Regions from separate parts of the Homo sapiens genome. Here all the other regions are linked to region 1. Evidence: fine-mapped expression QTL. A gene starts in region 1. Each other region holds a variant in brackets. All regions are shown on one strand. Distances are from middle to middle. Region 1 holds the start of RPS6KA2 (ribosomal protein S6 kinase A2). Region 2 overlaps RPS6KA2 (ribosomal protein S6 kinase A2). Region 3 has its middle 56 kb from the start of RPS6KA2. Region 4 has its middle 41 kb from the start of RPS6KA2-AS1.

Region 1 (5,000 bases):
TCCTTGGAAAGCTTTTAACAAGACTCTCAAACTCTCAGGGTTTCTTCCCCTTAGCAATAGAATGAGGAAAGTTACATATGCTACCCCGATTTTCACAAGTATCAAATAATAGAAAGCTGGGGAATGCATTTGTAAAAAAGAGAGCATTGTATTAGCATTGACCTTTTTTTTTTTGAGACAAGTCTCGCTCTCTCGCCAGGCTGGAGTGCAGTGGCGCAATCTCGGCTCACTGCAACCTCTGACTCCCTGGTTCAAGCGATTCTCCTGCCTCAGCCTCCTGAGCAGCTGGGATTACAGGCACGCGCCACCATGCCCAGCTAATTTTTGTATATTTAGTAGAGATGGGGTTTCTCCATGTTGGCCAGAATGGTCTCGATCTCCTGACCTCATAATCCGCCCGCCTTAGGCTCCCAAAGGGCTGGCATTACAGGCATGAGCCACTGCGCCCGGCCATTATTGACCATCTTAGTGAGACCTCCAGCACCTAGTACGGGATCTGGCACACAGGAAGCACTAATTGACTACTTGCTCTTAGACTACATGTATTTTCAGCCCATTTGACCTCCTACATCGCTGATGGTTTATGTATGACTTCTAGAAATTTTATTTCTACATGGAAGAAACCTCGTTTCCTATTCCCACCACCCCCCCACCCCCCCCCCCGCTTGTTTCCCACTGTATTCTTTCCGGAGGCACGCCTGCAGCCCAGCCCTCCTTGCAGAACCCTGTGACACCAGAGGCGTGTGTATCCAGAATCAGGCAGATTCCTGAACTCCCACTGGTCAGCCAGTGTCTAGTGCTGCTCTTCATAAACAATGCCTGGAGTGTGCTCACACGTGTACCTCTTCTTGGCAAAGACAGTAAATGGAAGGAGACAAGGAGTTGTCTAATAAACTTGGCATTGAGATGAAACAGGAAACAAAGACATGTATCCGGATAAAGATAAATACTGTTCTGAGTTTCTGATCTTGTCAACTTCAGATTTTTTAAGTGCCTGTGTCCCAGGAAAATGATTTGCCTCACTGGTGTGCTTCATTTCTTTCAATATTAGACTTAAAAGCAAGCCCTCCTCCAGTACTGGATTAACAGTTTTGTTTGAAAGATGTGTTTTACCCTCGGGAACCGGCCATACTGATCCTATCTAGTACTTCCAATTCTGATTTAGGGATGCCATAAGAGAAACTTTTTAAACAAGTAATTCTCTTCTACTTTTTTGTCTATTCCTCAGGTCTCTCAATGGTTACAGAACCCATGTCTGTGTCTAATATCATGGCAGCTGGGACAAAGAAAACCAAGATGAAACATTTGAGATTGTTCCAGCTGAAACAAACCAACCAAAACCCCACAGGTGCCAGCCTTGAGGCAAAGGCGGGACAGTGTCAGGCGAAATCTTTGGGTCCCAGCCTCAGTCTCCCCATCACCATGTCTTTTTCACTTAAACACGTTTCACTGTTTTGTCATCTATAGATTCAACAATGTGATTTGGACACTGGGAATAAGAGAATAAGATTTGATGGTTGAAATAAAACACACCACGAGAGAACCGTCCACAAGGAAACTCTAAGATGCCAAGATGCGGGACAGGTAGAAAGGACAGGGCTTTGGGAGTACTCTGGGTTTTCAGGACGAATCTGTATCAGCCTCGGCGCTGCGAGGATATTGCATCAGGCTCTTTACTCCTGAACGCCGTTTTAGACGCCTAAGCAGATTGTGCTGCTGCCTGTTCTTCCCCGTTCTGTGAATTCTACACTGACTTCAAGTGCACGAATGAGCTACAAGATAAGGTGGAACCTGCCGGCCGGGCACGGCAGACAGCACCTGATCAGCGCCTCGGAGGGCGGAGCTGGGGGGCTTCTCCACTCGGGACTTTGAGGGACCCCCGCGGAGCGCTCCGCGCCACTCGGCGGTCTAGCTGCAGAGAAAGCCCCTCCTCACCCGGGGCTCCCTGTGGCCCACAGGGGACCATCCCACACCCCGTGCAGCCAGCGGCGGAGAAACCAGCTGGAAATGCAGTGGGGGTGGAGTTGCCCCCGCGAGGACCCACGGACCGCCCAATTACTACGGAGTCCCAGCGATAACGTTTGGAGCCGTTTGGTTCGATTTTCGGAACCGGACCAGCTTTCCAGTAACTTGAACTCCCTGACGGGTCTCGGGGTCCACCCAGGGGTGGCGAGGCGGGCTCGGGCGACCACGGCCCGCTCAGTGCCCGGCACCTGCGCGCCCCGAGGGCGGCCGCATTACCTCGAGCCGGCTCAGGCTGGAGCTCTTGGAGCGCGACTTCCTGCGCAGGTACACAGAGAAGAACCTGCGCACGGCGAACTTCTTCATGCTCAGGTCCATCGCCCCGCGCCCAGCCCGGAGCAGCCGCAGGGCCGGGGGACGCGCATCCCCGGCATCCCAGGCGCGGGGCTCAGGTCCGCGGGCGGGCACGCGTGGCCAGGGAGCCCGGCACGGCGGCCATGGGCGCGGGGCGTGGGGCGCGAGCTGCGGTCACAAAGGGCAGGCCGCGCCGGCCACCGCGGCCGGGGCCACAATCGCTCCCTCCGCCTCCTTCTCCGCCTCCCCTGCGAGTACCAGCGCCGGCCACGCGCCACGCCTACACCACGCCCACCACCACTACCACCAATCAGCGCCCGCCGCTCCGCGCCCCGGCACGCACACCTCCTCCTCCTCCGCCCCGCCCCGCCACTACGGCCAATCAGCGCTCACCACCCCTCCCGTTCCCACCCACCACCAGCACTGCCAATGAGAGCCCACCGCCCCGCCCGGGAGAGCCCCGCCTCTGCCGATACCTCCAATCATCAGCGCCGCCCTGTGGTTCCAGGTGCCCATCCCTCCTCCTCTTTCTACTCCTTCCTACAAGAACCAGCTCCGTGCAGCCCCGCCCCCACGCGGTTCCGCCCACGGCCCCGCCCACAGCACTGCCCGCCAATCAGTGCCCGCAGCCGCCGCATACCTAATGAGCCTCGGCCCGGGACAGCTCCCGGCCCGGGCGAGTTGTGCAGCTGCTCCGGAGCCGCGCAGTCGCGGGCGTTCCTGTCACGCAACTTCGGCCCGGCTGCTCTTTCTTCCAGCTTGGGGCCGTCATTATGTTTTCCTTCCTTAAAACATCCCTATGCACACTTTGTCATCATGTTTTTCTCTGCCGAACCAAACTTTAATTGTTGATCAGCAAACGCAGCCAAAACCTCAGCGGCACAGCGAGCGAGGGACCGCCGCCTGCCAGCGGGCCCTGCAGCTCGGCCAGGAGCCGCCCTCCGCGGAACCGGCGCCTTCCCTCCGCCGGAGCGGACAAAGGCGCCCGAGGGCGGGGGCTCAGGCAGCCCTCGGGGCGCCTCCCTCCCGCGGCTGCAGAACAAAGACGCATCCGCCCTCCGCAGCCGGTCCCGCTCTAGGAAACGTCTACACAGATGGCTTATCAGGGCCCGCGCTGGGAATACCCGGGCGGGGTGACCTGGGTCTAGGGCAAGGCCCTCAGACCCGCTGCTGGCGGCAGCGCCGCTCGGGATCCGCCTTAAAGGGAAACACTTTTTTCTTTTTTTTCCTAGAAATGCTCACCAAGGGCTGCAGCAGGGCCGAGAATGCGGGCTCACGACCCCGTGCAGCCTGCTCTGTTTTCCTCTTGTGCACGTGTTGAGTTTGTATTTAAAAACAGGGAGAAACCGAGCCCATTGACATAGCACCATCACCACCTGCAAAGAGCAGAAACGAGTGCGGTGGTGAGTTGACAAGTCTTGCTTGCTCTTTTGCAGTGCGAACTGCAAAATCCTCGCGTTGTTTTGCTCCCTGGACTAGTCAGATGTTGCGTTAATACTTGTGTAGTCTATTTTGGCTAAGGTGGGTAGAGAGGTCAGAATGTCCTTAAATAAGAGCTTTAAAGTCATGCTGCATCCGGGCTGAGGTGAGGTCAGATAGGCTCTCTGGGTTTCCTGGAGACCCGCGTTGAGCGGTGCTGCTCCGGAGTGGAAGCCGGGAGTTTAGCACCACGACTCTGGCGCTGCCCCTTCCTTGCTTGGTGAACTTGGGTGCCGTTGCACGTTGTTCCCACGACTCATCTCTAAGAGGAAAATACGAGTGAAACCTGTCTCACCTCCCTTACTGGATACCAAGAGGCTTATGCAAGATCACGGATGTGGGAGTGCTTTGTGAATTTAAATAGTGCAATTGATTTTCATATTATGTATTAAAGGATCTATAATGACTATTCTTTAAAAACAGAAGTGCAGGACCCCACAAGGACACCAAACACCACTTTTTGCTCCTTTTCAAGATGGTGTGCCAGTTAAGTGCCCATGAAAACTGCTTTGCCTGCTTCCTTTAAGGTTCTGCTGGGAGGGTAGTAATCTGTGCTCTCAGAACCAGCCTCTTAGTGCCCTGTATCCCTGCTGGGACCCTCAGGCATCCTGGCTCTAGGCAAACACAAAGACACTCTGTACCCAGCACGGGAAGAGGTAGATGGACCTCCAACTGGACACAGACTCCGGGAATGAGGGAGGACCAACCCGACCATGCTTCCCTCGGAAGGGGAGCCAGTAATACTGGCCGGAGACAGGAGTGCTGAATGCCACCTATACCAACTCATGGGCATCCTGTTCAGGACAAAAGCCCCAAGGCAGGCAGGCCTAAGTCAAGGCTTGTGTTGTACCAACAATAGTATTTTGACCTGATCTGACAAAATTGGAAAGGAAATATTTCATGGGACATTCATTAGTTCCCCAAATTTGAAGGCAACAAAACTGTTCTGTTGAACTTGGGAGGGAAAATCATTCAGATTTCACTGGAATTCATTGCTAGAACAATAAATCTGTTTGCCTTTGTTTTTCTCCTGGTAAAATACACGTATACCAAAATCTCTAGTGATCATGGAACACTACTTCATGTGATTATGTAATGAAATCCTCCAAAACCACTAAATCTAGGGTAGGTATAATATCAAGACCCACTGTAACCGAAATCCAAATTATCCTTACCAAATACCAGAAAAGAAAGTGAACTTGATA
Region 2 (8,144 bases), 85 kb before region 1:
GGTGAGGAGGGGAGCCGGCTGCAGACCCTAGCCTTCCTGGCTCCTGTGCCCAATCCAGAGGAATGGATTCTTTTCTTTTCTTTATTCTTTTTTTCCTTGTTCTCTTATTTTTTTCTTTCTTTGGGGAAAACAGCTGCTAGAATGCACTTTCAAAGATACATTGGCTCAGGTCAATAACCTTCCTCACCTTGGTGATGATTTACCAAGAGCCAAGGGAGGCTCTAGAGAGAAGGCAAAAGTGCATGTGACGGCTCCAACGGCATTTTGTTCTCACCTGGCACAGCCCAGCCCTGTGCCACTGGAATTCTGGCTGTGCAAAGTGAGACCCCGGTTCTGAACTGTCCAGGTTCCCGTGATCGCAGCCCTGCAGGTGAGGACCGCCTGCAATTTTCATCCAGGGGGGCTCTGTCCAGGTGTCCTTTGTGTTCAGGAATGAGACTCAAGAGACAGCCAGGGCTGAACTTACCTTTCCATAGGATCCTTGTCCTAAAACCTTCAGCAGCTCAAACTGGGAAGGATCTGCCTTCTCAAAGCCCTCCTTCACATGATGGCTGATGTCTATCTCCTTCACGACGCCTTCTTCCTGCAAGAGAGCGGCACGGGTGAGAAACACACCGCGAGGAGTCCCTCAGAGCCGCTCACAGCTTCCTCCTCCCCTGAGTTTACCACGAGCTGGGTCTGTTACAGATTTTAGCGCTGGAGTTTGAAAGTGGAGACACCATTTAGTTGTGTTTTTTTCTTTTTTTTTTCTTAAGACGGAGTCTCACTCTGTCTCCCAGGCTGGAGTGCAGTGGCTGGATCTCGGCTCACTGCAACCTCCACCTCCCAGGTTCAAGTGATTCTCTTGCCTCAGCCTCCTGCCACCATGCCCACCTAATTTTTGTATTTTTGTATTTTTAATAGAGACGAGATTTCACCATGTTGGCCAGGATGGTCTCGATCTCCTGACCTCGCGATCCACCTGCCTCGGCCTCCCAAAGTGCTGGGGTTACAGGCGTGAGCCACCCCGCCCGGCCCATTTAGTTTTATGGAATCAACTTGGTGATGTGTGTGGTTATTGTGTGCACCCTGTGGGCCTTCATGGTTTCTTTTCTCCATGGACTTTTGTCATTTGGTCTTACCAAGGCCTCCGAAAAATCTAAGGGTACTCTCAATGAAATCCATTCTGCTCTTTAACAGTCTGGGCAGAAGTTCTGGTACGATGAATATAGCAACTATGGAACAAAATGACAGCAAAAGCATATTGACGGGTTCCTAGATGGAGAAGTGGTCTGGAAAATGCAGACGGCTTGTCCTCCTTCTCCTTCTGATTCACGCTATCCCTGGTATGTTTGTCAAAGCTAATGTAAAGAACACGTCATTGCCATCCTATAGATTATATTTCAGAAGAAGCAGTCAGGTAAGATTTGCCACCAGCCCAGAAAGCAAGATTTCCCTGTAGGAGAAAGAGTCTATAAGTGAAAACACTGACAGAAAACACTACAAATTTTCATCCCAGAGCTTCCTGTCCCCAGAGTCACATGACTTCCCTTGTAAAGGGGTAGGCCATCTGCCCAAGTGCCAGGCCCTGGAAATGGAACACTGGAAAGGAGGTGTTTCTCCCAACATGAGACATTCGAGCCCAACTGTTCCTTGAATTTATCTCTGCATTTCTCTGAGATTTCTGTTCCACTATCTATACATTCGTACACCCCTTTCTACAGTTTTAGCTCGGGGTGAGGGGCTGAAAAACTTCAGAAACTGCTGGCTAAAATGCGCATCCAAAAACAGCAACCAGGAATTGTATGCATAGTGTGCTCTGGGAACCAGGGGCCTCTCATTCCTCATTGCTTCTTTTCATGAAGAAACTGTGAAGTGGAGATTTTCTCCTGAGACTCAGATTACACATTAATAGCTGGAAGTGATAGAGGTGGGCTTCTCATCAAGGACTGACTTCGAAGCCAAGTACTTCCACCCTCTGTTTTACTCTAAGAGTGAAGACTTCCAAATGAAATCACAATAGCAATAACGTACATGACGATGTTTGAAAAATTCAGTTTCTCAAAACGGTTACTTATAAATCTTGCTATTTTACCTCCATGTCACAAATAGAGGCACATGTAAAAGCAGATAAGGTGTCTGAGCCGTGGAAACTCACAGCGGATTAGAGGCCTATGCAGTTATCCATGGCTTTTCCATTCTCAGTTAAAGGAAACACTTTCGTCTCCATATCTTCAAGGATGATTTGCTATTTTTGTAAAAACAGTGGTTTTTTTTTGTTTGTTTGGGAAAACAATGAGTATAGCCAAAATTGACTCTGTTTAATCCATCCTGAAGTTCATATGAGTGCAGTTGGAAGATACAGAATTACAATTTTGTTGCTTCATAATTACTTCTTGAATGAGTAAGTAAAAATGCTAGAGGCACAGCCCAGCCAATGGGCATTATATTTAGATGCTAATTTGTGAGGGGACATCACATTTTAAGCCCTTCCTCCCTTCACAGCACAGGCTTACTAGAATTGCAGGACCATGCTAGCCACCCGAGACTGTGCAGCTTTTGTGGTGAAATCTCCTGGTTTATGGAAAGGGACAGAAAAAAATGAGGCCCTCAGGGATCCACGTGTGTCACTGCCTGTGAGAACCACTACCTTCCACGCGGCTGCTGGAGGTGGCTTCCTGCACAAAAAACAAAGGCAGGAGCCCAAGTTCAAAAAAATTCATCATGGAAACATGTATGCTATCTTTTCCCGTCATTGACCTACGAAAGGAAGAAAGAAATTGCAGACGATTTGTCATTTAAAGAACAACAAAATACTCCTCTTCTGTTACTAAAACACTGTCCTCGCAATGGGTCCATTAACATCCTCTACCTACAGGACTAGCACGCGCATGAGTCATCCAAACCCCAGCCTCCCTCCCAAAATAGCTCCCATCATGCAGCTGTGTTAATGCGACGCCCACACTATGAAAAAAGGAATCACCACCAAAGCACACCCTTCTGTGACTTCATTTTGGTAACGAGAGCATGGCAACGGCCACACTGCAGAACAGAAAGTAAAATTCAACACCGCCCAGAGGTGTGGGGCAGGCGAGGCACGAGCTGGCCAGGGAGGCTTCACACTGCAGCCACCACCCTTTCCTGGGGCACGTTTCCCAGCCCTTGTGTATGTTTCCTAAAGATTTCCAGTTCCTTCCTTTTTCTTCAGCAGCTCTTTGTGGAGGGTCTGAGACCCACAGCTGTGGTGAATGAGCTCATGCAGTCCCATGGGTCCTGGTCCCCTTCACTGCCTTTGTGGGACATGCCTTTGTGGGACTAGGCTCTGAAGCGAGAGTGACAGCATCCGGGCTACTTGGATGCCACCTGGCCATGGACGCTGGCACCTCAGAATTCCCATGGGTGTTCCCCTGCTCCCAGTCAGCCCGTTTTTTAGGCTGGCTTCACGCCTTCCTCAGCACTTCCAAATTGCCATCCCCTGTTGCCTCCCGCCTCCCCGGTCCATGCCACACCCCCACCTCCGTTGCAGAAGTTCACCTTCTTTAGTCATTTCTGTAACGTTTCGAATCAAAGCCTTCGACGCAGATATCTCATAACATTTCAAATTTTGTGCAGATTCTTTCTGTCAAAGTATTGAGAGCAAATGTACCTGAAGTACACACATAATTTCATCTCCTAAAATGACATGAAAAACGCCAGCTTTCTTCCCTAATAATATTGCGATAGAGTTCACTTCTCATTTCAAATCAGTAAGGTTTTTAACCGCAAAGCATCTGAGGCGTCAATGGAAAAAAATCCCCAAGAGCATCACCTTTCAGACTTCAGAGTTCTGCCTTCACAGTGACATTTTAGCTTGAACTTGCTGGAGGATGCTTAACTTTCTTTTTCACTTTCCCCAAAACGAAAACAAAACAAAAC[A/G]AACAAAGATCTGGTGTTCCATGGACTCGGCGCGCACTCTGGGGTCTGTGTGAATAGGAAACAGCCAGATGAAGCCCCAGCACCATACTCCCGGGCACTGCTGATAACGACCCTCTCTGGACAGCCCTGGTTTCTGGATCCCTTCATGACAACCACCCTAAGGGGCAACTAGCATGAAAATGTTACTCACATTTCATTTTGAAATATGTGCCTTTTCTGTTTTATGAAGCAGGTAATTTTATCTAGAGCTTGATGAGGATTTGCATGCAATGCCTTAGGAAGATCAAGTCTGTTCCTGAATCGGCTGCATCCATGGCAGGAGCATGTGGTTTCCAGCACAGCTACTGTAAACAGTATTTTTAAAGCTAACTTGAGAGCTTTGGGAGGAGGAGCTGGGACGGTGATCAGGTGCTAGCTCCATAAGCAACAATTCCAAACATTTTGTAACGTAAGAAAGAAAAACTAGAGGTATAAACTGTTTAAATGATGTTTGAATGTGACAAATTGTGACAAGGAATTTTTAAAATTCCTGCAGAACTGCACTCAAAATTCCAATGACTGCAGGAAGTCCCGGGCAGGTATTTCAGCAGCTGCTGGGAGCGGCTGGGAAGTGGGAGTGACAGGGAGAAAGATGAGGGCGGTTGGCCACTGGCTCTGCATGCCTCTCTCTGGGCCAAAGTCGCCTTCTTAGGTCATTTCCTCTGCTCTGAATCACCTGCTCTTCATGTCATTAAAGGGATAATATTTATAAAAAGTGCAAATTAAAAGTTGTGGAATATTAATGATAAGGACATAGGAAACAAAATAGGCAAGGGTTCACCTCATTTCCAAAAAAGGAGAGAGGTCATTCTATAAATCGCAGATTCACATGTAGGATATTAATTTCCAGAATAATAACAGAATATATTATTACACAGGTGGTTTATGAAAATGTGGAAAAGAACGTATCTCCAACTCACAGGTCCCATCAAGCCAGCACTGTTCTGCTGCTGACGGCATGAACTCATGAGCAGGTGGACAAGAGCCTGGCTTTGAGGGCAGCTTTGGTGGAGTCCCTCCTGAATCCCAGGTGACAAAGAGGCTGGCATCATATAAACGCTTAATGACAGAGTACCACATCGCAAGTCATTCTCTCAAGGCACAGAACCCGGACACACCTGCCCAGGAACAGTATCGTGTCCTGGAGGTTCTGAACGTATGAATGTTCTATGTTGCCCACCTGCTTCAGAATCACCCCAAGGAACTTGTTAAAATGCAGATTCCAGGCCCTGGGCAAGGCCTTCTTGGTCTGGAATCTCTAAACTTGGCTTCGTCTAGAATCTGACTTTCATTATCTCACCAAAGGTGCCCTTCTCAAGCCATCCAAATCTTACCCATTGCTAAATCGAGTGGCTAAATTTCCATCCTCCATAGCACTGGGCATGGCTATTCACTCCCTCTCACTTGAAACACTCTCTTCACCTGGATTCCAGTACATCCTACTCCCCTGGGTTCGCTCCCACCTCCCCCTCTTTCTGTGTCTGCCAAGGTCACCTTTCCCCTGGGCACAGTCCCTGGCCTTTTGTCTCCATGTAGTTACCCCCTTGGAACCTCGTCCTGTCTCCGGGCTTTATAAACCATGTGAATAAACACTGACAACTCTCAAATCTCAATCTCCAGCAGGGGCTGCTCCCAGAGGTCCAGTTCTAGAGGCCCATCCATCACAGGCAACTGTCCTGAGTGTGTGCACGTGTGTGTGCGCATGTGTACATGTGGAATGCACATACGTGAGTGTGTGTGAGACAGGTCTTGTTCTGGCTTTTTCTCACATTGGGATGGAGCTCCTTAAAGTCCCAGCTTTATGCAGGAAGTGGGGCAAGAGGTCTGCCTGGGGCCAGCCCTGGGATTTGTCACCAGTTCCCCTGCCCTGTGAGGCTGTAAACAGCCAAGCTCAAATTCACCAGGTTGTCACCTGGCCTCCAGGAGAAAGCTGGCTTTAACTGTCTCCTTCCTTGGGTTCCCTGCTCTAACACAGGGTTTGGCCTCTGCGTATTCCTTACTCCCCAGCTCACTCACACTTTTAAACATTCTTAAAGGGATACTTGATCCAGGACTTTCGGTTGTATTTCACATGAGGGCTAGCCACATGTAGTCTACCACGCCGCTAGAATGGAAGCTCAGGAATGCTTTTAAAGGGAGAGAAGATTCACTAAATGGCTTTTTAGCCTCTTCCGGAAAAGAAAGACAGCCGCAGACTTGCTGAGAAGAGTAGAGGGGAGTCTGTGCAGGAACAGCCCCCGGAGAGCGAGCTCCATCTGCGGCACGACTCCTGATAGCTCGTGGGTCCTCGGCCTTTGGTTACCAGGAAAGCTGGCTGCACCAGTGAACACATGCCACCCATGACAAAAATCCTCCAGTAGGCCGTTTTTGTAATTACTAAAACGAAATAAAAATAACTAGACATTTGAACCAAAGACTCTTAAGAACCAGAAGGAACCTCCCATGTAGCAGGTTGGGCATCTTACTATTCAAGGGACGAGAATTCAGATCATCTGAGGCCCAGGACCCATGCTCCTGGCAAAGCTGCTTCCATTCCAACCAGGGCCTAGGACGTTTAGAGTGGTAACGGCTCGCGAACTCTGGGGCCTTCTCTGCCCTTTAAACTGCCCTTTCTGCATCTCCGCAAATGTGTCTGCTTTTGCTGGTGTGAGCAAATGTGAAATGAAATGATGGGACCAGCTGCATTTGTCCAATCAATTCCTTAGGAAACCATTTCTACAACAAGTTTCCCTTCCATTTCTAAAAAGCTAAATATAAGTGAGCCATTTAGTACAGCAGAACGAGTACCCTCAAGAATGGAAATCAGGCTGGTGACATGGGCGCTTGCTGGAATCTAGGTGAAACAAAGATGGCTTAATTTAAGATGAATAAATCTGCTACAAAATCATAGGAGGAAGGGAAGCAGGAGAAGGAAAGAGAAAGGAAAATACCGGGTGCCATGTCAAGATCGCAGATAGAAGCTCTGAAATTTCAGGAGTGTGAGCCTATCTACTTGATAGAGGGCTGCTCAGCGAGACAAGGTCTCCATTTCAACCCTGGTCATTTTCAGAGTTTGAACTGCATCTATTCGATACAATGCTCAAATGGATGCCGCAGAATCCGCGGAGGGAAAGCAATGTGCAGGAACAGGGCTGGGCTCTGTTTTCTCATCCATCCTAGAATATCACTTTTTCTTTTTCTGACCAATGAAAGTGATTTAGCTTCCAAGAGTGGTCACTGCAGTCACCGCATGCACAGTGACAATCTAGGAGTGGGCTGGCTGCTCGGGCTCCTTTCCTCTTTGGGGAGAAGTCTCCGTTAAGCTACTCACTGAAGCTCCTCGGAACTGAGGCTGGGCTAATGTAAGGTTCCTAGAACACAGCAGCACTGAGTGGACAGAGACTATGGGAAGAAAGGAGGAGAAGCAGCAAAACCAGCCTTGGCATTTCTCTCCTTTTTTTTCTCTTTCTATCCAAACTTGCCTTTCTGCCTCCCCACCCCGTCCCTGTTCATTTTAGTGACTGAGGAGAGAGGAACCTCCCAAGGATGTTTCCTCTCTGGTTTTAATTAAGCCCTGCCACTTCGCCACTGTTTCTGCCTTCGCCTTCATTGCCTGTTGTTCCCGTGGATTATTTTCTCTTCCCTTCTTCTCAGCCCTCAGTCTGCTGGTATTTTTATAAATCACAGTCAAGGCAAATTGGACTCTGAAAGTTGTGCTTATAAACGGTGACTGACAGATGGAGCGCCGCCACTTTTGCAGGGGCCTCCTTCCCACAGAAAAGACGTGCAAAGAGTGGAGAGCCAGGGCTTCCTGCACACACATGGGCTCCCAGTCCTGACATCGGCCATTCTGTCGGTGTGCTCATTCTGATAAATCCTCCAATCCTTAACCTCCCTGGGAAACGTCAGTGTGAAGTCCTCACGGAAGCCTGGGGTGTTGGTGTCTGACACGGTGTTTTAGGTATGGCTCCGTGACCCCTTCCACTTCATCTTGAAAATTATCTTCAATGATTTGCTTTATAAAGACTCATTACTAGCATCGGGGAATGAGACGGTAGCTACTGACTGACATGAGTGTATTAAGATGCACAGGAACGATCTCCGAGAAGCCTCACACTCGGGGCAGGTGGAACACGAATGCAGATTAGGTCAAGCCACAGTGTTTCCTCGTGGAACAGCTTTAGATGGGACCATTTCCGGTCTGGGCAGTGGGATGAGTGCCCAAAGGGGCT
Region 3 (8,144 bases), 56 kb after region 1:
GCAAGGTGGGGTGAGAAAGGCCAGGTGGTGACCTTTGTCCAACCATGGCTGGCAAGCGACAAAGAAAGGGGGCTCAAAACGTGGCCTCTGAAGTCTCGATCCCCCGCATTTCTGCTGCGCCTTGAGCCCCCTGTGCTTCATGGGGCTGGGCTCTCAACCGCAAAGCAGGTATTTTTTGACCACAGATGAATTTCTAAAATTTGGCAAAAGGATTTAAAAACTCTAGAAATAGTGTGTATTTAGATATCTGTTCCCCAGATAAATTTGAGTATGACTTTTTTTGATCATGGTCATTAGTAGATAAAACCGTATTTGTTTACAAGTAATATTAATTCTATAGGATTTAGTTCACGTTACAAAACCTGGTTGACCAATTACCAGCACTAACAGAACTAAATAGTAAGTTTGGAGAAAGAAACTGTGAACAGAAAGGCTATTCAGTAGGAGATGTTGCTTTTTAAGTCACAACAAAAAAATAATAAATATTGTCACCGGGCGTGGTGGCTCATGCCTATAATCCCAGCACTTTGGGAGACTGAGGCGGGTGGATCACCTGAGGTCAGGAGTTCGAGACCAGCCTGGCCAAGATGGCAAAACCCCAACTCTCTTTAAAAAAAAAAAAAATACAAAAATTAGCCAGGCATGGTGGCGGGTGCCTGTAATCACAGCTATTCAGGAGGCTGAGGCAGAAGAATCACTTGAACCTGGGAGGTGGAGGTTTCAGTGAGCTGAGATCACACCACTGCACTCCAGCCTGGGCAACAGAGTGAGACTCCATCTCAATAATAATAATAATAATAAATAAATATTGTCACTTATTTTTGCCAGTGCAAATCTAGAAAACATGAGATGAAGGATAATGTGTAGGACATAGCCAAAAAGAGCTTGAACGTGAAAGTGAGAGGTAACAACGTGCTAGCAGCCCTGGCTCGCTCTCGGCACCTCCTCAACCTGGCGGCGCTCCTCGATCTGGCCGCGCTCGAGGAGCCCTTCAGCCCGCTGCTGTGCTGTGGGGGCCCATCTCTGGGGCTGGCCGAGGCCGGAGCCGGCTCTCTCTGCTGGTGGGGAGGTGTGGAGGGAGCGGCGCGGGCGGGAGCTGGGGTTGCGAGTGGTGCTCACTGGCTGGCGCGGGTTCCAGGTGAGCGCGGCTCGGCAAGCCCCGCACTCAGCGCGGTTGGCCAGCGCCTGCTGGGCTTGATGGGGGACGAGCTCCCTCTGGGCTGCAGGAGTACCTGGACTAGGTGCCGCAAAGTCCCTCGGCAGTGCCAGTGAGAGGTGAAGCCAGCTGGGCTTCTGGGATGGGTGGGGACTTGGAGAATTTTTCTGTCTAGCTAAAGGATTGTAAACCCACCAGTCAGCACTCTGTGTCTAGCTAAAGGTTTGTAAACGCACCAATCAGCACTCTGTGTCTAGCTAACGGTTTGTAAACGTGCCAATCAGCACTTGTTTAGCTAAAGGTATGTAAACGCACCAATCAGCACTCTGTGTCTAGCTAATCTGGTGGGGACTTGGAGAACTTTTGTGTCTAACTAAAGGATTGTAAACACACCAATCAGCACTCTGTGTCTAGCTAAAGGTTCGTAAACACACCAATCAGCACTCTGTCAAAACTGACCAATCAGCTCTCTGTAAAACGGACCAATCAGCTCTGTAAAATGGACCAATCAGCTCTCTGTAAAATGGACCAATCAGCAGGATGTGGGTGGGGCCAGATAAGGGAATAAAAGCAGGCCGCCCCAGCCAGGAGACCTACCTGCTCTGGTCCCCTTCCACGTTGTGGAAGGTTTGTTTTTTTGCTCTTTGTAGTAAATCTTGCTGGTGCCCACTTTTTGGGTCTGTGCCGCTTTTGTGAACTGTAACATCTCCACGAAGGTTTGCAGCTTCACTCCTGAAGCCAGTGACAGCACGAGCCCGCCAGGAGGGACGAACAACTCTGGACGTGCCAACCTTATGAACTGTAACACTCACTGTGAAGGTTTGCAGCTTCATTCCTAAAGTCAGCGAGACCATGAACCCACCAGAAGGAAAAAATTCTGGACATATCTGAACATCTGAAGGAACAAGCTCCAGACATACCATCTTTAAGAACTGTAACACTCATCACTAGGGTCTGTGGCTTCATTCTTGAAGTCAGGGAGACCGAGAACCCACCAATTCTGGACACAAAAGGAGACTTGCTGAGGCCAGAGGCACAGTTCAAACTTCAGTCAGATGCAGAATCGGAAAAGTTTCAGCCTTGCTGCCCCTCTCCTCCCATTTTTGACTCTGGAAAGGCCTGTGAGGGACCTGTTTGGCGTATCGAGTGAGGACTGCTCTTTTTTAACAGCAGCCGCTTGTCTCTCCCATATCTTCTCACCCCTTCTGCTCTGAATCAGGCTTTGTTCCCTAGTGAAGCACAGAAAGCAGGGAAAATTGGAGAAGGTGGAAAGGGCAGAGAGGCAGCGCCAGAGCACAGATCTAGCCACAACGTGTCCACCCCACTGCGTTTAGAAAATGCAAGGAAGGATGTACCAAAACTGCAGGTTACAACACTGTATCTTAGAAATTTTCTGAGCTTAA[G/A]AAATAGATGCCATACCCCACGACAAAAAGAAGTGGGTTGCACAATGGACTTGTACCATTTCCTGATACAAATGATGCTTATTTCCCAAGAAAAATACGAGGCATAGCCAATGGCCTAGGATGCAAAATTATAAACCAACTCATTGCTCCACTGGAAACCACGCCCTTCTTCTAGATTCCGTCTTGACATAAGGTCCAAGTTTCTTATCTGCACCCTCCACACGGCATCTCCTACCCCTAATTCCTCTCTGACACCTGCAGCCACGGCTGACCAGTGTGACCAGTGCTGATCGGTGGCCCCAGGAAGGCTGAGCTCTCTCCCTGCAAGTTGCACCAGGATTCTGTGCCCCGAAGGGAAAACTGTTCCTGGTGATTCCCGTGTCCCAGTTCCTTCCTTTTGTGATTCCAGCTCACAGGACCAGGCCTCTCCCTGGATCTCCCCCTGCCCGCCCCCCCCCCCGCCCCCGCCCAAGATCTTGCTCTTGGTGGCCTGTCTCCCAGAGATGAAAAGTCCTGTCTTGACCCTTGTTTGACCCTTGTGGCCCAGGGCTGGGGCCTGACACCTGCAGCAGGTGCCTAGAATGTTAATGCCACCAACTTTTCCTGTCCTCTGCTGGGAATGCCTTGTCCACCAGCAGCTCCTGCCGAGATCCCTTGATCGGCTCCTTCTGTGAGTCTCGACACCACCCACCACCGCACTGTTCTCCCGCAGAGATGACAGACAGCTTAGGTTTAAGTCTTCTGATGCCCAGCAAGAATATACAAAGAAAACTGGCCTAACCAATGTATTAATAGTAAAATCTGGTTCATTCGTAAGTAGAGTTCTGAGGGTTTTGAGATGCTGCTGTTATGTTTAAGCTACAGGCAATTTACCCAAGGAATGTGATGTTGAAATATGTTTCAGAATAAACTTCCGCTTGAAAATTACAGGCAATAAAATGTACCAGCTTTCTCCTTTTCTTCTTCATTAATGAATTGAGGAACATAAAAGCTCAATTAAAAATAAAGACTCATGCGTCACTTAGTTGTTTTTAGTCCTTTCAATTTAATAAAACATTGGTATTGAGGTGTCGTAGGAAAATGGAAAGTCACTGCTCCGTGTCTGGCTCAGTATCCACGTTTGGCTTACATCATAAATCCAGAGCCATGGGGAGTGTCTTTTCCCTACTTCATCGGAGCCTAGAATGCCCACAGGTGGGGTCCGGTGTGGGCAGCACAGGGGAAGCATAGAGAGGGTGAGACAGCCCTGGGGAAAGGCAGGGGCAGGGAGCAAGCTCCGAGGGCAGGGCCAACATGTCAGGTTTACTGCTGAACTCCAGGGTCTAGAACAGAGTGAGAGGGAGGAGGGACTCCATAATTAGCTGTCGAATAAGTGGAATCCCAAGAAGAAAACTGGGTGGGAGTGTGGAGATAAACACTAGCAACAACGACACAAAGAAAGCAAGGATTGCTTCATAGCCGGGACAAGCTCATTCATCGGAAACCATGAAATGGAACCTGTCTCCCCACACCCAGCAAAATAACAGCCCTACTGCCTGTCCTCAGAGCGCCCTATGACCACCACCTACCTCAGTAAAGAGACAACCCATGCATTTGACCACATCCTAAGCCCTTTTTCCCCTTCTCTGTTTCTTCTCAAAGGCCAGGTGATCATGTGGGTTCCAGCTTTATAACCACATTCCTTAGACCCAAACCAATGAGTTGAAGGCATGAATGAAGTAGGTAAGTGAAGGCATGAATGAAGAAATGCAACGAGAAACTAGGGGAAGGCCTACCAGCTGATGGACGTCAGATGGGTCTCGCCGCTTGCCCTCGGTGAAGCCCAGCCTGAGACCACAGCTGGCAGCTGTGCTTCTGTGGGAGAAGATCCAAGCGCTGCTCAGGGGTCACAACATGCAACATGACTCTTTCTACAGGGCAGGGGCAAGCCCTTAACCATGGAAACACATGCATTTCCACGACAACTCATACCTACGTGTGCCTCTGTGTTGGAGAGTATTGCATATTGCAGATGTCCAAAAGTGCACAAAGTTTTAACTTTATCAATTACATGAAGTGATGCTCTCCTAACTCAGAGTTACATTTTGGCAAGAGCCAGAAATGTACCAATGTATTTCCAAGCAAGCAGTGAGTAAACAGGAAGCAAAGTGTTTGCTCCCCATGATCAATTATAATCTACAGACCACATTCCTTCCACTCTAGAGACCTAGAAATATGTTTTTAAAGTATCTCATTAGTTTAAATTATGATTTTAAATTACTTTATTAGTTACTTGTGTGGCCATTTAAATAAGTCAGATTTTACTGGGAATAAATCAATGATTCATCTAAGGACAATGTGTGACTCAAATATTTCCTTCCATTAATCAGTAAATGTTCCTTTTCCCAACGTGCTTCCCCGCCAAGGAAATCAATGTCTCTGGATAACTAGGTAGGCGCAAATATGTCAGAGCACATCAGACTGAGAACACAGAAGGGAAACACATCTGGAGCTTTTCGCATCCAGGGCCTCACTCCACCGCTGATACGCTGGTAGCTGAATCTCGTCCGACCACATGGTGGGTGAGGCTGGGACAGCCTGGAGATACAGGAGAGAGCAGCTAGCGAGAGGTCCTTGGGGTGTTCGGCAGCTGTGGTCCCTAAGGTTCCAGCCCCCAGGCAGGCCTACAACAGCCACGGCACCTCCCCTTCCCTTCTCAGGACCCAGAGCTCACCAGGCAGCAGCAAGGGGCTACCGTGCAGGAGTTCATCTTGGACCCTATCCCAGACACGCTCTTGTAGGAACCCAAGATAACTGGAGGAGTCTATAAGGAGGTGTTGTCATCTAGATGTAGCTGGGGACAGAGATCAGAAAACAGGGCCCAACCTCCCCAGTGAGGTAGGAGACGGGACTTGACTCTGGAGGCAGGGTTCAGATACTGGACCAAACTGAGACCCTGCTAACACAGGGACGGAGGTCAGGGGATGTACCCATCAGTGTGCCATGTCTGTTTACTATTGCCATGGCAACCCCCAGGCATTACCGCCCCTTTTCATAGCAATGACCCCACAACCCAAAAGTTACTGCCCTTTTCCTAGAAATTTCTGCATAAACTGCCCCTTAATCTACATGTAATTTAAAGTGCGTATAAATATGACTGCAGGCCTGCCCTGAGCTGCTACTTTCTGCCTAGCAGGTAACTCTGCTCTGCAGGAGCAGTCACAGAGCTGTAACACTGCTGCTTCAACACAGCTGTTTTCTTCCACCCTACCGTCTGCTTGCTCTTGAATTCTCTCCTGGGTGAAGCCAAGACCCTTTGAAGGCTAAGCCCCAATTTGAGGCTCACCTGTCCTGCATCACCAGGAAGACCAGAGACCAAAGGTGGGGTCTCACCGGGTGCAGTCATCCTCAAGCCTTCACCCTGCTCTCTGCCCTCCTCTGCTCTGCCCCAGAGGCCCCAGGAATCCGGCAGATGCCGTTGGATGTATCCACAGTGCAGCTCCATCCCCGAAAGCCTCACCTCCAGCCTACATCGCTTTTACCTCCCAACTTGAACATTTATCACCCTTCCCCCTGAACAACTTGATTTGTTTTCTAAGAAAAATTCTGAACCTACTTTTTAATAATTAAATGCCCTTTCTCCTTCTTTCCAATTTATAATAAGAGAATGTCTTACAAATCTGAAAAGCAACAAGAAACATTGTGCCAGAGGAGGAGCTAAAAGAGGCTATCCTTACTTGAGAGAGCGTGGTACTGGGAGCCACACTGCAGGGAGGCCCTTGCAGGAAGAGGGAGATGTCACTGCGGGATGGTAGCTCCAGAGCCCTGCAAGGGCCAACCGGCTTCCATGGAAGCACCCCAACCTCGAAGTCCCCATCCAGTGGGCGGAGCTCAGCACTACAAGGAAGCTCAGACATGACCCTGATGGAGTATGGGTGGGTGTGCAGGCTGCGGGGACAGAGGCCGAGGAAAGCTCAGGCAGGACCCTGATGGAGTGTGGAGTGTGTATGCAGGCTGGGAGGACAGAGGCCGAGGAAAGCTCAGGCAGGACCCTGATGGAGTGTGGGGTGTGTGTGCAGGCTGGAAGGACAGAGGCCGAGGAAAGCTCAGGCAGGACCCTGATGGAGTGTGGGGTGTGTGTGCAGGCTGGGAGGACAGAGGCTGAGAAGGGCAATGGTTAAAATGATCTGTTGGCCATTTCTATCACTGTCCATCCCACTTGTCCTCCCTCAGACACTCGGGACAAGAGTCCAAGGATCCCAGACCTCTGACTTTCTTTCTGCCCTAGTTTCATGGAGGTGAACTGATGGATTCATAGCCATGCATCTTTGAGAGTTGTTGGAGTACAGTTTCATTCCCTAGGATTAGGGAAGATCTTGGATTCAAATCCATAGACTCTTCCTGAGCTCCCACTGCATCCCAGCTTTTGAAAGAATTCCTCCCCGTGCACCACCACTCTTCACCCTCACGACAATTCTATGGGCATCACGTTTCTTATGGCAAAGAGCCTTGTAGGACTGAGGTTCAAGCTGGGTTCACACAGCCAGGTACTTGGTGCCCTTTCTCCCACCACATCTCCTACCACCTCCTTGCTGCCTTGCTCCCCGGCTAAGCTGGGTCTGTGCCTCTATCTCCATGGTATCTACATCACTGCTTTTAACTCCTACCATCGAGTGATCCCGCAGACAATGCACCATGGTGATGGACGATGGGCCCATGCCCTAGGAGGGAGGGGGACAGAGGGCGAACGAAGGGGCTGAGACGAAGGAGCTGTGAGGTCTTTACATTCACAGCCTCAGGTCTTAGGGCTAATGAGAACGAATGACTGGGATAAGCCAGGTGCCTTTCCAGACACCTACGGAAGGATCGAGAATCTTATTTGGCAGTGACACCAGTTCTACCCCACAGAGATGGGAAGAGATCAGGACAGCATTGACCTAAGGGCCATCCTATGCTCATGTAAGGTCGGTCCTGCTGAGTCCTGCCGCCAGGAACAGGAGTCAGGGTGCATATCGGGCACCAGGCATGAGGATTTGTCACTGGGAACAAGGATGTGTGGAGACCGTGCAAAGCAACCCGACCTCTCCTACTGTGGGACCCTCTGGCCCAGGGTTATCTCCATGTCACCTGGTGGGCTCCTGAGCAACTTTTCTGCTTTTTTGTATGCAGGGAGGTGAAATGACCCAGAACAAGCCCTGAAATCCAAGCAGGTTGGTGTGAACTTCTGAAACCTCTGATGCCAAACCAGCACCTCCCAGATACTCTGGAGCCAGCACACATGCTCTGCACCCAAGGCCATGTGGCTTCTGCTGACAGGCCCCAGCCCATCAGTGCATCTGATCCTGCAGCCCATGTGGCTTAGCTTTCCTTCTCTCTCTGCCCCGAATTCTCCACCCCTCACTGGCTCACTTCTGCTCATGCTTCAGCCTCCTGGCTTCCTCTGGGAAGCTGCCTTGCTCCCCGGCTGAGCTGGGTCCATGCCTGTATCTCCATGGTACCTATGTCACTGCTTTTAACTGTGCTATGTTTTGAGGACCTGTTCAGGAGCTGTTTCCTGCACCAAGCCGAGAGCACTCACAGCAGCACCCATGGTAGGAGCTCTGTGC
Region 4 (8,144 bases), 240 kb after region 1:
ACGGAAGAACACCAGCCAGCCATCAGCACCAGCTGCCATGCAGCAGACACGCAAAGTGAACTGCTGTCATTATTACTATTTCTAGTTTCATCTTCTCACCTAGTAGCCAGGAGATAATCATCTCTATCCAAGCTTGACTATGAATCTTCAGGGAATCATGTTTGATCTGCATTGTTTAAAAACGGAGCTTTCTCTTTCTCTATCTAATGTATTATGACATCCCAGAGAGAAAAATCATGCTTATTCCTCCAAGAGAACACAAATAAAATGGGTCAGCCAGACCTTGTGGGCTGGCTTATGGACTTGCCTTACTCATCATTTCTCCCATTTTCTTATCTTGCCCCCAAAGCACGCCCTTGGCTGCTGTAACCCCGCTGAAAGCAATGATTGAAAAGTCCTGTGTTTGAGATGTGCCTTCAACTTGCCAGAACATAATTCATGAAATACTACATGTTTCTTTTTCATGCTAGATTCTGCCGGGGTTTTCTGGAGGTTCTGGCTCTTAATGAGCACGTTGCCTTGTCAACACACCCATTTATGGGTTAATTATATATCTGAAATATCTCAGAACAACACAGAGAACCACAAAGACTTTCCCTGGACAGTCAGATGAATCTCCCCTGGTCTACAATTTTTATAAACTGTATTTAGTGTTCTCTAGTACAATGGACCTCAGACCCAGTTCAGTTCGGTTCTCTCAGACTACAGATGAGAAAACAGGCCAGAAAGGATAGCAGCTTGAAAAGGTGGTTAGAGCAAAACATGAATCCAGGAATGCTGATTCTAGTCCCTGGAAATCCAATCATCAGTCCTGTCACATTTGCATAACAGCAAGGAACTAAAGCAATAAAATCTAAACTAAATCACTAAAAAATAAGCACTAAAATCTCTTAGCAGATTTTCCGATGAGAAAAGCATGCAGGCTCCTCCTGCAAGGGTTTTAGGGCATTTAACTTGGAGTTCAGAGGCCAGATATGCTCCATATAGCTCTGCCACATTTCTTGATATGTGAGTTATTTTAATACCATGCAACATAAAACATGGACAAAACTAGAGAGGAAATTCAGACTGTGAATTCCAAAACACAGAGGATTTTGTGGATTTGGAAATTTCCTCAGAAACTTGAAGTACCTCATGGTTAATATTTAAGCTTTCATTTTTCTATAGAAAGAACTCTGGTTTTCTGGGTTCCAAGTAAATAGGAATTTAACACTGTCCATACTCCACCAGCTGTGCTCTCCTGAAAAAATTCAGCTAAGAAGCCTGAAAAAAATTTATTTTGCTTCAAGAGCTATTTAATGTATCCAATTTTCCTCAAAACCTTTACCATCTGCCCTCTCCTGGGGCTGGCAAGGCAGGGCAGACCATCAGTCAACTCGGCTCCAAATTCTTGCCACTTGCAAGTGCTTTCTAGGCTCATGGCATGGTTTTCAAATCATGGGAATCTATTCATTGCTGATCCATTTATGAGCGATTTGAGAAATATGTGAAACACAAGCTGCTCCTCATGGCTTTGGTCACTGGAAATAATGTAAAGACCAGGGTCCCACCTGGAATTGTAAAGCCCCTGGCCCCCTCTCTCCCATCCTTTCTGAGCCCAGGGCGGAATCCTCCCTCTGGACAAGCCCTTCATTCGTGAGGGCTGAGCACCTTACAGCTTCAGCACAAGCCAATGTGCTGACGATGACCAGCTGGGCTATAGGAAGCACTAGTAAATGAGAAAAGAACTTCTAGCTGATCACTTGCTCGTTCACTAATTCAATATTTAGAAAAATTGAATCTCTCTCTCTCTCAAAAAAAGTAGACTTGAAATGGCAACCGCAGTAAGGGAATGGATCTTTCCAAGGCACCATCCTCAACACCAAGAACAACCCCATGTACAAACAGAAGAATCAGTAACAGTAGGGAGCCCTGGTGTCATCCTTCTCCCACCCCAGGTACTTTCCATGAGCAGCAGTATCTGGGCTGTTCCATCTAAAACAAATGGACTTCAATGTCCGTGCTATGCCCAACAGTCTCTGCTAAACATCAATACATATGTCGAGCATTATTTAGCTTGGCTTTCCAAGAAAACTATTCAATATGAAGCATTCAGTAAATTCTCTTCTAAAACAGAATCTCTCATTCAGTTCAAAGGTATGTTATGTGACTATCTCAAGACGTACATATAAGAATAAATAAAATTTAAAATAGCATTGAATTTATAAGTACAGTGCTGGGAGTAGGAGATAGGCAAAAATTAAATTGGACTTTGAGGAGGTTTGGTGAGTGATTACAAATGAGCCATGTTTAAATGCCATTTGAGTTGCTATAAACACAGAACAGGTATATCTAATAATTTAGTAGACGTTAATAAATTTGGGGAACTTTCTCTTCTAGGAAAATGTATGTTGACCATCTCCAATTCAAATGGAGCAAATCAGATTCCGTGGAGCAGAGGTTTGCGTGTCCCCAGGGAAGCATGGAGTGAAAAACTCTCAGCAGTGATTCCTGCACACCCACCAGCCCTGGGACGGGCAAGGAACACTTTGATTTCATTATCTTTTCTGTTTATCTTTAATCACACCTCTTTATCTGACCATTCATCCTTTTAAGGTTGCATTATCTTTTTTCGTTTAAGATCACATTATCTTTATGCTCTCTGTTCCTTGATTCATCATTGATTTTTGCCTTCTGGTTTCATCTTTCACTGTAGCAAATGGAAGGCTTCTAATTTAAAGCCACTTGTTGAAGGAAAATCAAACTGATGCAGATTAGTTTGGAAACGGGAATACTTTAAGACTTACATAGACTTTAAGAAGCATCCTGAAGTTTCCTTAAGGGCAACAATTTGTTTCTTGTACTCATTATCATTTATGTATTTACACCACACACAATGCCGTGCGTGTATACACACGCAATGTTTATCCATGTGCATACACAACGCAACATATACATCCACACACACTGGATAGCCAACTCTCTGACCCATCATAGTCACCTAATGGACATGAACTGATTATAGTAAATGAGCAATGCATTGGCTGCAGAGTTCGGATTCTTGAGGATGCTGTGAAAAGTGCGTTCTCTCCTGCACTCACCTCTATTTCCATAGGCTCCACCTCGATCTTTTTCCATAGTTCCAGCAACTGTGCGATTGGCATTTTTAAACTTTCCTTTTCTGCTGGTCGAGTATTGATAGTAGGAAAGGAAATAAACAGAGGCTCGGACCGGCACAGGGGGACGGCCAGACGGGATGTCGGAAGCCAAGGGACGCAGAGGCCGGCGGGTGGCGGCGATGGAGAGGACAGATCCGGCTCCCAGAGGAGGTCGTGAGCGCGGGGCCTGCGCCGGCCGGAGGAGGGACCCGGGGGGCTGCAATATGGCTGCTCGGGCGCCGTCCCCTCCCTGCCAAGCCAGGGCTCTGGGGAGCTGCTGCCGCTTCCCGCTCGGGCTGGGGCGAGGAAAGGAGGGGACGGCGCTGCGGCTTCGGAATCTGTACTGCGACTTTGGCAGAGTAAACGCTGCACTTGCAGCTTCGAATTG[A/G]ATTTCCTGCCTCTCCCCCCTCCCTTCCCTGGCCACGCTCTTCCCTCCTCCCCTCACTATTTTACCTTAATTGGCTCTAAACGAGGGTGAAAGTTGAGTCTGAGGATGCCGCTGCCATAGAAACTGCATAGCAACCAAGGGCTGGGGAGGCGGGGGGGGGGGGCGGCAGGTCTTTCCCCCCCACCCCCAGCACGCGCACACCCTTCCCCACCTCCCCAGCCCGCCGCGCCTCCCCGGAGACCCACACCGCCACCTCCCGCCGCAGAACGGGAGGGACAGGAACACGGACGGAGGGACCGGGACGAGGGGAGGGCTCCACGCAGCACAGCTGCTTTCCTGCGGAGCGTTCAGGAGACTCGGGCACCTCTGGAAGCGCTGCGGACTGAGCTGCCCGCGGCTGCCCCCGCCCCGAGGGCCGGGACAGCACCTCAGGAGAAGAGGGACGAAGAGGGACGACAGACAAATAGCTGGGGAGAGGCGGGGGGGGGCGGCCCGTGGGGTCCGCTGGGCCCTACCCAGCCCTGCCCGGAGCTGCCCGAAACAGCACTCAGGCCTCTGCGGGCCAGGATGAAAGGCACGTGGGCCGCTGGGGCTCCCAGTGGCAGGGCCCGAGGGACAGAAACATTAATTCAAACAACGTGTATCCTGCCCCTCAGCTCCTTCAGGTCTCCACCCCGTCCTATTTCACAGGTGACAAAGTCCTGAGGCTCAGAGAAGGAACCCCCGAAGACACAGCCAGGCGCCTGCGGGAGAGCAAGGCCTCCTGGGCCACCGCTCCTTGGAAAGGAACCAGGGGAAAATTCCCCTCCCTGTTTCCCTTTTTTGGGTTGTGGAGTGGGGGGATCTCTCTTGCCTCCCTCCTTACTCCCTTCTGTCCTGGATAATGAAAGGTGCGTGCGGGTGAAAGACATATTCATTTCTCCAATCGTCCAAGTGCTAATCCTGAAGCATTATGGTTCCCTCTTTTAGGAAAGGGTGTTAAAGTTAACACAATTTAATGCTGCTTTGGGAGTAAGTGTATTCATTTCTATAGCAAATTCCTTTATCTTTGAGAGAAATATCTTTTTAAAAATAGCTTAATGTTCTCCAAAATTATCAATCCCTTTTTCTTTTTCGACTTTATGCAATCACTAAGAAATTCAATTCACTGGAAAAAAAGAAAAACCCAAATCCCAGATACTTTGTATCTCATAGCAAAGTAGAGTCCAAAGTTAACAGAGGGGTTCTGTACTTGGTGTTGATTTATGACAGTCACTTTATCTTTCTACAAAATTAGGCCAGAAGGACCTTTAAAATCAATTGCATTCAGAATTTTAAAAATAGCAATATTGTTCGTTTTCAAATTGGAGATTCTGTGATTGACAGAGCAGAGTGAAGGTTTTCTTGTGTTAACAATCATAAGGTGATTTTGTACATGCTGTAAAAGGTCACAGATTAAAAACAGACAAAGCCAGGGTGGTGGCTCATGCCTGTAATCCCAGCACTTTGGGAGGCCAAGGCGGGCGGATCACCTGAGGCGGGAGTTCGAGACCAGCCTGGCCAACACGGTGAAACCCCGTCTCTACTAAAAATACAAACTTAGCCGGGCGTGGTATCGCATGCCTGTAACCCCAGCTACTAGGGACGCTGAGGCAGGGGAATTGCTTTAACCCAGGGGGCGGAAGTTGCAGTGAGCGGAGATCACGCCACTGCACTCCAGCCTGGGCAACAGCGCGAGACTCTGTCTCAAAAAAAAAAAAATGGTTTTTGGTTTTTCTGTAAAAAAGCTAGGAGAGTCACTCATAAAAGACAGTGAAGAGATGTCAAGAATCTTTAATCTGATGGTAAAAATGTGGACTCCTGAAGGCAATGGGAAAGAAATGAACTCAGATTCTTTACTGTGTATTTACAAAGACTCCAGCTTCTGGAAGTTTCCACAAGTGCTCTGTTGTGGAAGAAGGAAATAGAGGTCCTTTATATGAGGGAGGAAAAGTCCTTTGGACGGGCTGTCTTGTGATTGGCAGTGTGTCCTAGGAAACTTGAGGGAAGCCCAGCTCCTGGGAGGCCATGGGTGAACAGCCTGCCAGAGTCCCTAGCAAAAAAGAGCTCATTTTAAGGGGTATCTTAGGAATTGCTGAAAATGTGGCTCATAATTTAGCATGGTGTTTTTTTTAACTATGCAAATATGACACTAATCAACAGACTGCACATTATTTGGGCATCTCACAGGCAAGCAGAGAGCCTGGAGAGATGAAGCGATCACCAGGGAGTGAGACGAGAGTTCATGTGGCCAGGGCTCTGGGCTGGAATTCCCACACTTACTCCCTGCACTGCTGCCTTGTAAAACACCTACGGGGTCCTCCCAAAGCAGAAACCTCCCGGATGGGTTCCTTTCCATCAGCTTTTTACATGCAAGGCACTCCCAGGGCTGCTGCCCACCAAGATGCAGTACCAGGTGTGCCAGACACTGGGGAAGGGGACCTGGAAACAGCCAGAAAATAAAACAAAATAAAATGCAACAAACTGAAATCTTCAAAAGGTGATATTGATCTGGGAAAACAGCCCCACTTATAAAGTTTGTGTTGGGAAAGGTAAACAATTAGAGGTAAGAAGGAATAATTTTTCTGAAAGGAAATAATGATTACATTTAAATACCTACGAAGATAAAGATTCAAATAAAGAACCCAGGAAATTAGATGCGTTGGAATTAAAATGTTCAAATAAATCCCAAGAAAACTTGAACAATCTTTTTCTTTCTTTCTTTTTTTTGAGACAGGGTGTCACTTTGTCACCCAGACTGTAGTGTAGTGGCACGATCTCAGCTTACTGCCTTCTCGACTTCCTGGGCTCAAGAGATCCACCCTAGCCTCCCAAGTAGCTAGGACCACAGGCGCATACCACCACACCACTCATTTTTGTGTGTGCGTGTGTTTTCTGTAGAGACAGGGTTTTGCCATGTTGCCCCGGCTGGTCTCAAACTCTTGAACTCAGGCAATCTGCCGGCTTCGGCCTCCCAGAGTGCTGGGATTACAGGCTTGAGTCATTCGGCCCGGCCTGAACAACACTTTCAACAGAACACCACCTGAAAAAGCTATTTCTGAGATATTCACCTCCAAAGCATCAATTTCTAAGAAGAACTGTTGAAGCAGCCTTGCTGAAAATGGGTCCTTAATGAACCAAACTCTGCAAAAGAAAAGCAATGGGAAGTATTTTAAGTGTCCCAAGTCACAGCCATTGTGAGATGAGATGGATGAGCTGGCATGAAACTCACTGAGACCCAGCCCCAAGTGAAAATTACTCTCTTGCTCCAACGAAGGAAGAGCACTCCTCTGTGTTCATTGCCTCTTCAATCTTAAAGTGTCTCTTTTCTCTTAGGAAGGAAAGACGGATGGAGAAGGGGAGGGAAGGAGGGATGGAGAGAGCTTATCCATTCCACGGATTTCTGACAACCAAAGAAAAGCTGAATCAGGAATCTGGTCCTGGTCCCACTTCTGCTACTAATAGCTATCTTCTGTAGCTCAGTTTCCCCACAGAGGGGGCTGCCACGGCCTGACTCACAGAATACACAGCAACGAAATGTGTTTCGTGATCTGAGAGAAAAGGCCCAAAGAAATCCAAGTTTTCTGATGGACAGACGTGCTTGACCTCCACACTGAATCCGACGGACATTTTTAAAAGACCCAAATGTTTTATTCTGGGCTGTTCCGTTTTGCAATATTGTACATTTTGAGATGGATGAAAGATTTAGTAAAAATGAAAACAGTGTCCAGATGCAGTGGCTCACACCTGTAATCTCAGCACTTTGGAAGGCCGAGGCAGTAGGATCACTTAAGCCCAGGAGTTTGAAACCAGCCTTGGCAACACAGTGAGACCCTGTCCCTACTAAGAATAAAATTTTTTTAAAATAGCCAGGCATGGTGGCACATGCCTGTAGTCCCAACTACTCGGGAGGCTGAGATGGGAGGATGGTTTGAGGCTGCAGTGAGCCATGATTGTGCCATTGTGCCACTGCTATCCAGCCTGGGTGACAGAGCAAGACTCTGTCTCAAAAAAAAACAACAGTTACTAATTTCCAGTGACATGGTCACCAGCTTTGGTATTTTCACTCTCCGGAGTTTCACAAAATTCTCCAAAAAACTTAAAACCAAATTTATTTAAATTTTAACAAAAATGCATGTGACCCATTGTCACGGGCTGGGCCATGTCCCTCTACCTCCCAGATTCCTGTGTGGAGGCCCTAACTCCCACTACCTCCAAATGTGACCTTCCATGGAAGCAGGGTCCCTGCAGAAGTAGCTGGTTAAGGTGAGGTCATGCTGGAGTGGAGTGGGCTTTATGTGATCTCATAAAATGGGGAGATTTGAACACAGACATGCACACAGCAGAACAGCACTGGGACGCTGGAGCTCTGCTGCCACGAGCTGAGGAACTGGGAGCTCTCCCAGAAGCTGAGAAAGAGCCCGCACAGACCCCTTCCGGACACCTTCAGGGGGCGTGCGACCCTGCTCACACCTTGACCTCAGACTTTGGGCCTTCAGAACTGGGAGGCAATCATATTCTGTTGTTTTGGCCACTCAGCTGGTGATACTTTGTGATGGCAGCACGGAAGCCGACTAACATACCAGCTGGGGGATGAGGTG

The links.
Region 2: its variant is fine-mapped to the expression of RPS6KA2 in whole blood (TOPMed, PIP 0.96).
Region 3: its variant is fine-mapped to the expression of RPS6KA2 in whole blood (GTEx, PIP above 0.99).
Region 4: its variant is fine-mapped to the expression of RPS6KA2 in whole blood (TOPMed, PIP above 0.99). The same link has a PIP of 0.9 or more in T cells and follicular helper T cells.

What each region holds. Positions count from the first base shown.
Region 1 is chr6:166,624,680-166,629,679 of GRCh38, forward strand. RPS6KA2 (ribosomal protein S6 kinase A2) reads right to left here and starts at 2,572. Exons shown (of 21, transcript NM_021135.6): 1 at 2,242-2,572. The coding sequence starts at 2,340. RefSeq lists silencers at 2,442-2,791, 2,852-3,021, 3,272-3,331.
Region 2 is chr6:166,538,202-166,546,345 of GRCh38, forward strand. It overlaps RPS6KA2 (ribosomal protein S6 kinase A2), which reads right to left. Exons shown (of 21, transcript NM_021135.6): 2 at 467-583. Among named protein-coding and RNA genes, the nearest start is that of MIR1913, 33 kb to the left of the region's middle. RefSeq lists enhancers at 3,029-3,148, 3,739-3,958, 4,129-4,729, 5,077-5,997. The variant A/G (reference allele first, on the strand shown) is at 3,895.
Region 3 is chr6:166,678,683-166,686,826 of GRCh38, forward strand. It overlaps a transcript of RPS6KA2 not described here. Among named protein-coding and RNA genes, the nearest start is that of RPS6KA2, 56 kb to the left of the region's middle. The variant G/A (reference allele first, on the strand shown) is at 2,560.
Region 4 is chr6:166,859,028-166,867,171 of GRCh38, forward strand. It overlaps a transcript of RPS6KA2 not described here. Among named protein-coding and RNA genes, the nearest start is that of RPS6KA2-AS1, 41 kb to the right of the region's middle. RefSeq lists a silencer at 3,806-4,115. The variant A/G (reference allele first, on the strand shown) is at 3,526.